2 linked regions of the Homo sapiens genome follow. The protein of the gene in region 1 purifies or fractionates together with the protein of each later gene. This does not show direct contact. Each region holds a gene or a part of one and is shown on either strand. Other genes may lie near its edges.

Region 1 (4,588 bases):
CGTGGTGGCTCACACCTGTAATCCCAGCACTTTGGGAGGCTGAGGTGGGCAGATCACTTGAGGCCAGGAGTTTGAGACCAGCATGGTGACGCATGTCTGTAATCCCAGCTACTCGGGTGGCTGAGGCACTAGAATCACTTGAACCCAGGAAGTGGAGGTTTCAGTGAGCCAAGATTGCGCCACTGCACTCCAGCCCTGGGTGACACAGCAAGACTCTGTCGCAAAACAAACAAAAACAACCAAAAAATGTTATTAATGCCTGAGTCCCATCCTGTGACATTCTGATTTAATTGATCTTGGTTGCAGCCTAGGTATCAGGATGTTTTAAAAGCTCCCCAGTGATTCTGTGTGACACAGAGTGTGAAAACTGCTAACTTAACTTATTTCTGTAAATATTTGGATCTAGAAAAGTACTTAGATTCAAGTTCACTTATAAGGATACTTCATGGGCAGTGCCCCCTACCTTCTGTGGTAGCTCATCAAGAGAAAGATATTTTGTAGTATTTTTCATTTGCAACAGTCTTTGGGACTTCTCATTTTCTTAAGTTATGTTATTTCTTAATCCTTGGAATGTAGAGGCATAGGCAAAGAAAGAAAAACTCAAGAAAGTACTGACATGATATTTTTTCCCCTCATAAACTACTGAACTTGCATTTTGTAGCTTCTCCATTCCACTGGGCAGAAAGGGGCTTACTGAAGTGTCCAGTCAAATAACTTACAGTCAATTATGGCTTAAAATCGAGTCCCATCTAGTTCAAAGAATTCTCAGGGCTTTCTTCTATTATAGGATAGGCCTAGTTTATCACATGCCAGGCACTGTTCTAAGCACTTTACACAAGAGTGCTCACAACATTATCTAATCCCTAGTAATGCCTACAACATCCCTATCTACTATTACTTTCCCTATTTACAGATTGGAAAAGTCGGGCACAGGGAGGGTAAGCCAGGATTACACAGGTAACCTGGCTACCTGCGTATCTAGCCACTGTGCTTGACTGTGATTGGGGGCTGGGAAGAAACAGGAAGGAAGAAAGCAGAAGAGAATGGGGTCCCTGAAGCCAGAGACTAGAGAGTTTCTGGAGGTGGAGAGCAGCATAAGCCTGATTGCCAGAGAAGCAGCCATGGAATGTGCAAAGTGGTGAGTGGGGGAGTGGGACAGTGTGTTGAGGATTAGTGGGAGGTGAGGGCTACAGTCAGGGTCGGGAGGAGTAGTCTGGCCTTAAGGAGGAGGAAAAAAAGTGACAGATTAAGGGGGTGAGTGGGGAAGGACCAAGGGCAGCCACTGCTCGCTCCAGGCAAGTGCCTGGTGATGTGTTCTGCTGCTTTGATGTTTCTGAGAGAGACTAAAGGTCCCCCTGCCAGGGTTCTTGGGGCTCTGGGGAACCCCTGCTTTCCAGCTCAATTTTAGTGTCAATTTTATGCCAGCTGCTTAAGCAAGCTTTACATAGGAAAGAAATATGAGCCGCAGCGGCATCCTTCCAGGATTTAAAGGCTCAGTCCTATTTCTTATGATCCAAGGTCTGTCATCCTTTCCTTCTCTATCCCTTAACTGCCTTCCCTTGCGTGGAGGTAAGGACAGGGTAGCTAATGGGTTAATTCGGAGACAACCACCGAGAGAAGCTTCCTAGAGCGCCCAGGAAGTGGCCTTAGTTCCCATCGAGACTTCCTGTGCCCCAGCCTCAACTTCCCTCCTATGTCTGGAGAGTGATCACTTTCACTCCCAAAGACATCCTTTGGTGATACTTACTGTGGGATTCAGAGTGGGGTGCAGAGGACGACCCTGCAAAGGCACGGACTATAAGAGAGATCTGTGCAGCTGCGCCTCAGGGGGTGTCCTGGGCCCCTGGGCATGACAGGAGGGGGACCACTTGCAGTTCTACTGGAAAATTTACCACCCTTCCAGAATCCTCTGAAGATATACAGGTCGCAACTAGAGTGAGACCCGAGTACTGCCTTGGGTCAGAATGGCTAGAGAACCGAGAAAAAACGCAGCCCTGGACGCCCAGTCTGCAGAAGACCAGACGGGGCTCCTGACCGTGAAGGTGGAGAAGGAGGAAGCCTCCGCCTTGACGGCGGAGGTGAGAGCACCCTGCAGCCCTGCTCGGGGCCCCGAACGCTCCCGCCAGCGCTTCCGAGGCTTCCGCTACCCGGAGGCTGCGGGCCCCCGCGAGGCGTTGAGCCGGCTCCGAGAACTCTGCGGACAATGGCTGCAGCCTGAGATGCACAGCAAGGAGCAGATCCTGGAGCTGCTGGTGCTGGAGCAGTTCCTGACCATCCTGCCGGGGAATCTGCAGAGCTGGGTGCGGGAGCAGCATCCAGAGAGCGGGGAGGAGGTGGTGGTGCTATTGGAGTATTTGGAGAGGCAGCTGGATGAGCCGGCGCCGCAGGTAGAAAGAACAGGTTTAGTATCTGAGCGCTGTGGTCTGTTTCCTCCTGAAATCCCAGATCGGAGCGAGGGGCATTCCTTTAAGGTCCAGGAGTTCTTCATCTCTTTTTGTACTGTGAACCTCCTTGGCAGTAAGGTGAAGTCCCTGGACTCCTTCTCAGAATTATATTTTTAAATATATAAAGAAACTATAAAGGATTACAAAAGAACACAACTATATTGACATACAGTTAGCAAAGAATTAAATTTGTATTAAAGTCATATATGTGGATTTTTATTACTGCACTAAATAATAAGACCTAGGGACAGGGCTTATAATTGGCAATTTCAAAATGGCGATAAGCATCTATTTGCCTGGTTGTAATGTGGTGTGAAAACGTGCAGGTTTTGTTGGTGACAAAGTCCTGGGTACTGCTTATGCTACCTTGATTTGTTGCTTCCATTCATAATTGAAGGAAATGTTAACTCTCTCTTAAAGACCAGTAAAAATAAGATTAGTTTTTGTCCTTTCTAAGTTCATGGACCACTTGGGAGAAAGTCCATGGACCACTGGTTATGAACCTCTGGTAGAAAGTGGGCCTATTTTTACCTCCATGTTCTTCCCTGTTTTATGAGGGACTGTTTCCTCTTTGCATCGTCCTGTGTCCCTGTGCACACAACTTCAGAGGACCTGTGTGGCCAAATCTTCTAACTGGTGAGCTGGATACCAAGGTTCTTGACTTAGGTCTATTGCACGCAAGCCCTGTAGCAGTGGGAAGTCATTGCAAATCTCTTAGCTTCATTCTTCATAAAATATGTGGGAAATTCTGAGCTGCACGTGAGACAGTAACTTGAAAACTGTAATTTAACTATCAATGTCTGGAAGGAAACCTGCTTTTAATGAGGACATAACTATGTGCCAGGCCCTGTGTTAGGTGATGTCACATACTGTGATCTTATTTACTGGTCTCCAAAACCTCATAAAGTAGAAATTATTATCCTCATTTTTCAGATTAGAAAATATATTAGTATTGAGAATTTAGCACCAGTGTCCAAAGGGTTTTCGTAAACACACAGATGTATATAATGAGGGAGCCTAGAGTAATGGTAAGAACACGGGATCTGGAGTCATTCTGTCTGAGCTCCCATCCTAGCATTTCCACTTATTAGCTGGGTGACATGGGCAAGCTGCTTAAACACTGTCCACCCTTGGCTGGGTGCAGTGGCTCACGCCTGTAATCCCAGCACTTTGGGAGGCTGAGGTGGGCGGATCACCTGAGGTCGGGAGTTCGAGACCAGCCTGACCAACATGGAGAAACCCGGTCTCTACTAAAAGTACAAAACATTAGCCGGGCGTGGTGGCACATGGCTGTAATCCCAGCTACTAGGGAGGCTGAGGCAGGAGAATTGCTTGAACCCCGGAGGCGGAAGTTGCGGTGAGGTGAGATCATGCCATTGCATTCCAGCCTGAGCAACAAGAGTGAAATTCCGTCTCAAAAAAAAAAAAACAAAAAAACCAACAACAACAAAAAAAATGCTGTCCACTCAGGAGAGAGGATCCGGGCCACATCTCCGTTTTCAGCAACTTATCATAAAAATCCAAAATAATAGCTCACAGGGTTGTTATCTATATTAATTGTGTTAATATCATAAGGCTTGTAGAAACAGTGCCTAGAAAATAGAAATCACTTGCACATGGAAAACATAGAAATGTTGGGTAGATAACTAAAAATCGTGACTTCTAGGTTCCCGTTGGTGACCAGGGGCAAGAACTGCTCTGTTGCAAGATGGCACTATTGACACAAACTCAAGGGTCTCAAAGTAGCCAGTGCCAGCCAATGAAGGCTCTGTTCAAGCATGAATCTCTGGGATCCCAGCCCTTACACGATAGAGGTGAGTATTCTCTTCTGGGTTGTATGAATTCTATAGACTTCATCCAATTTCATTTAAGGATCACCTAAAAGATCCATTTACAGTTACTTTATATACTCATCACAGAGAGCTGTATTTTAAGACTGAGACTAAGAGAAATTTCAAACAATGGTGAAAAACTTTCCTAACCAAACTAGGACATAGTAAATCTGATTTTATTAAAATTGATGTCTAGAAAGAATCGGTTTTTTAAACAACATGGTGATCTCCATTCATTAGATATATTTAGGGAGCCTTCATCTATGGTAGCCAGTGTTGTAGGCACTGGGGAGAGAGCCACCAATAAGACAG
Region 2 (3,814 bases), on another chromosome or scaffold:
CCTCGTGGCAGGAGGAACTTCAAAAGTCACATTGCAAAGGGGCACGCAGACAGGAGTGGAGAGACTTTGTGGTCATGTGACACTCTAGCACATGCCTTTGCCTTTGTTGTTGTAAAGCTTATTTACATTTTCAACAGCTTTTTTATATTCATGAAAATATAATATACAAATAAGTTATGATTCTAAGATTTCTGTTGAATTTTCTATTTTAGTCTTCTCGGTTTTAATTATCTGATGTGCCGTCTGCTATACCCAGATAAGTCTAACTGAATGGGTAGATCTATAATCTTTGGATCCAGGGTTTGAGACTGTCTCACACTTATTTGACCGTGTGAATCAACCTTAGGATTGCAGAAGGGTGACTGATATGCTCATGGTCTTCTAAAACCTACATTTTGTTATTTTGTTTTTTTTGTTTTGTTTTGTTTTGTTTTTGTTTTGAGACAGAGTTTCCCTGTTGTTACCCAGGCTGGAGTGCAGTGGCGCGATCTTGGCTCACTGCAACCTTTACCTCCTGGGTTCAAGCGATTCTCCTGCCTCAGCCTCCTGACTAGCTGGGAGTACAGGTGCCCACCATTACGCCCAGCTAATTTTTTGTATTTTTAGTAGAGACAGGGTTTCACCATGTTGGCCAGGCTGGCCTCAAACTCCACCCACCTCGGCGTCTCAAAGTGCTGAGATTACAGGTGTGAGCCACTGCACCCGGCCTACATTTCATTATTTTGGAATTTACCACTACTTTGTTGATTCTTAATAGAGTTATGTAAGCTATGCAAGGGTTTGCTCCATGACAGGTAAGTGCAGACTGCTAATATGGTGTTACTCCATTACTCACCTTGTTGTCGCGGTGTTTGTTTTGCAGCGCACAGACTGCAAAGCTGTCATTAGCACCATGGAAGGCAGCTCCTTAGACAGCAGTGGATTTTCTCTCCACATCGGTTTGTCTGCTGCCTATCTCCCAAGAATGTGGGTTGAAAAACATCCAGAAAAAGAAAGCGAGGTATACTCCTTTTTACTTAGACATAGGAGACACTATTGAAAAAATGTTTCAGAATAAGCTGGTTAAACTTGCAAATTATTGATTGTCCTGAAAAACTAGCATTACAAAATGAACTCTCACATCTCAAGATTCTGCAACTAAAAATATTTATGATATCAAGCATGCCAAACTTCTGACGTTTCATCCAAAACCCTTATGTGGATGATTTGCCTGTACAAATTCGCATTTTTACCTTAAGCTCCACCAAAAGAACATGTGCCATCAGACATTACATTGGGTATTCTCTATAACTTGTTATAGTTTTAAAATACTGATACTGGAAAAACAAATAAGCAGTTATTTGTGGTTGGTAATAAGATCATTTTGTGTGGCTGTGACAAAGAGTCTCTTCTTAAGTTAAAATAAAAATAGAAACTTAGGCTGGGTGTGGTGGCTCACACCTGTAATCCCAGCACTTTGAGAGGCCAAGGCAGATGGATTGCTTGAGCTCAGGAGTTTGAAACCAGCCTGGGAAACATAGTGAGACCTCGTCTCTGTAAAAAATTAAGAAAAAAAATTAGCCAGGTGTGGTCATGCACACCTGTGGTTTCAGCTTCTCAGGAGGCTAAGACAGGGCGATCACTTGAGTCCAGGAGGTTGAGGTTGAACTGAGCTGTGATCGTGCCACTGCATACCAGCCTGGACAACAGAGGGAGACCCTGTCTCAAAAAAAAAAAAAAAAAAAAAGGAAACTTACATGATAGTAGTTAAATATTGGTTAATTAATAGAACAAAAGGTATGTGTGTGTATTTTAGTAATCACAATGGCATGTATATTCCTCTTAGAATAGTGTGATATATATATATATATATATATATATTTGTTCCATAATGTTGATGCTATATGATTTTTCAGATACTAATTCTTGACCTCTCAGAAGTTTATGTCAGAAGTTGGAAACTCCCAGTTCTAACATTCTACTTTTGACTGGAACTCCTAGTAGGCCATCTTGTTGTTAATTACATCTTATTCTTTCTGTTTTTATAGCATTAGTTTACCTCACTAGAAAGTTTTGGAGTTTTCTAAGTAGACCTTTTGCAGTTGAAGTGACAAGAAGCTCCAGTCCAGCACCTTCTTTCTCCTTTCAGGCTTGCATGCTTGTCTTTCAACCCGATCTCGATGTCGACCTCCCTGACCTAGCCAGTGAGAGCGAAGTGATTATTTGTCTTGACTGCTCCAGTTCCATGGAGGGTGTGACATTCTTGCAAGCCAAGCAAATCGCCTTGCATGCGCTGTCCTTGGTGGGTGAGAAGCAGAAAGTAAATATTATCCAGTTCGGCACAGGTGAGTGCGCTTTGGCCCTGGTCCTGCGTGTGCTTCCCCTACATGTGAATCACATTCTGTAGAGCTGACAACTGTGGGTACCCGACCCTGCCTGTGTGGTGAGGGGCAGCCTAGTATGAAATTGAAGAACAAGAGCTCTGGAGCTGGACCCCCTAGGTCCCGGTTCCAGCTGTACCACTCACAGGTTCTGTGTGTCACCTTGGGCGCACTACTTGAACTTCTGGTGCCTCCGTTTCCTCATCTGCGATCTGAGGATAATTGTCCCTAACTCACAGTGTTGCTGTGAGGAGGATTGAGCTAATGTATGTAAAGGATTTTTAAACTGTGCCTGTTCACAGTAAGTGAGATATAAATGCTACTGTTGTCATTAGCAACTGAACCAAATACAAAACCCTTGGTCTGTTGAGTAGGAGGTCCCAAGTCTAAGGACAAAACATTTGCCCTCAGCGCAGTCATAGAAAATCTATAAGGAATGGTCTCAGGAAGTATCGGGCCAGCACTGCTAGAAGGGAGGTAGTACCACCCTCCAGATGGGGCCCAGGGACGTCTCAGCCACCAGAAGGCAGCACCTCAGGGATGAGAGGTGCGTGGAGTGGAGTGAGGGGACAGTCTTATCCTATTGATTCTCATCCTCTGTGCAATCCAGCAGAAGACCCAGCCCCTTTTCCCCAGAGGTACAGTCTGCTGTTGCTGGGACAGAGGTCGGATAAGCATGGGGAGTGCAAAGGGCGTGAGCAGAGACTGGCCTTCCAGGGGCCAAGCTGCTCAGGCCATTGCAATGCCCTGCACATTTGCACAAGTGATCTGCATGTGCACATGGAATTTGACTCAACATTTTGCATAGTAAAGCACCACGGTTTGAATGCTCTATGATGTATCATTTAGAAAAATAGTGTGGTGAATTTTTTTTTTTTTTTTTTGAGACAGAGTCTCGCTTTGTTGCCCAGGCTGGAGTGCGGTGGTGCGATCTCAGCTCACTGCAACCTCTGCCTCCCGGCCTTAGCCTCCCCAGTGGCTGAGATTACAGTGCTCACCACCACACCCAGCTAATTTTTGTATTTTTAGCAGAGACAGGGTTTCACCCTGTTGACCAGAGCTGGTCTTGAACTCCTGACCTCAGGTGATACACCCACCTCGGCCTCCCAAAGTGCTGGGATTACAGGCATGAGCCACCGTGCCTGGCCTGTGGACAATCTTTTGTATGTTAAAATTATCAAACAGTTTTCTAAAAAGAAAGGTACACACATAAATATATAATATCCTTTACAACAGCCGTGATGGTATGAAATAACATTATTGTTTGTTAGTGCTCAAGCAAGTGAACGTGTGGAAGCAGCACCTCATGCTGATCTTATTACACAGGTTACAAGGAGCTATTTTCGTATCCTAAGCATATCACAAGCAATACCATGGCAGCAGAGTTCATCATGGTGAGTGCAAGAGGCTTCCTGTATCTCCTGGGTCTTTTCCTACCATGCTTTAAGGGGACC

Evidence for each region.
Region 2: the proteins of ZKSCAN4 (region 1) and PARP4 purify together in Homo sapiens (affinity purification with mass spectrometry; one large-scale study listed by BioGRID and IntAct). This does not show direct contact.

The regions. Positions count from the first base shown.
Region 1 is NC_000006.12:28,249,357-28,253,944, reverse strand, and holds the start of ZKSCAN4 (zinc finger protein with KRAB and SCAN domains 4), read left to right. Parts: upstream 1-1,675; 5' UTR 1,676-1,964; coding exon 1,965-2,387; exon of another isoform or gene 2,388-2,400; intron 2,401-2,556; exon of another isoform or gene 2,557-3,080; intron 3,081-4,110; coding exon 4,111-4,258; intron 4,259-4,588. UniProt on the Homo sapiens protein: May be involved in the transcriptional activation of MDM2 and EP300 genes.
Region 2 is NC_000013.11:24,453,527-24,457,340, reverse strand, and holds part of PARP4 (protein mono-ADP-ribosyltransferase PARP4), read left to right. Parts: intron 1-862; coding exon 863-1,000; intron 1,001-2,128; coding exon 2,129-2,324; intron 2,325-3,686; coding exon 3,687-3,754; intron 3,755-3,814. UniProt on the Homo sapiens protein: Mono-ADP-ribosyltransferase that mediates mono-ADP-ribosylation of target proteins.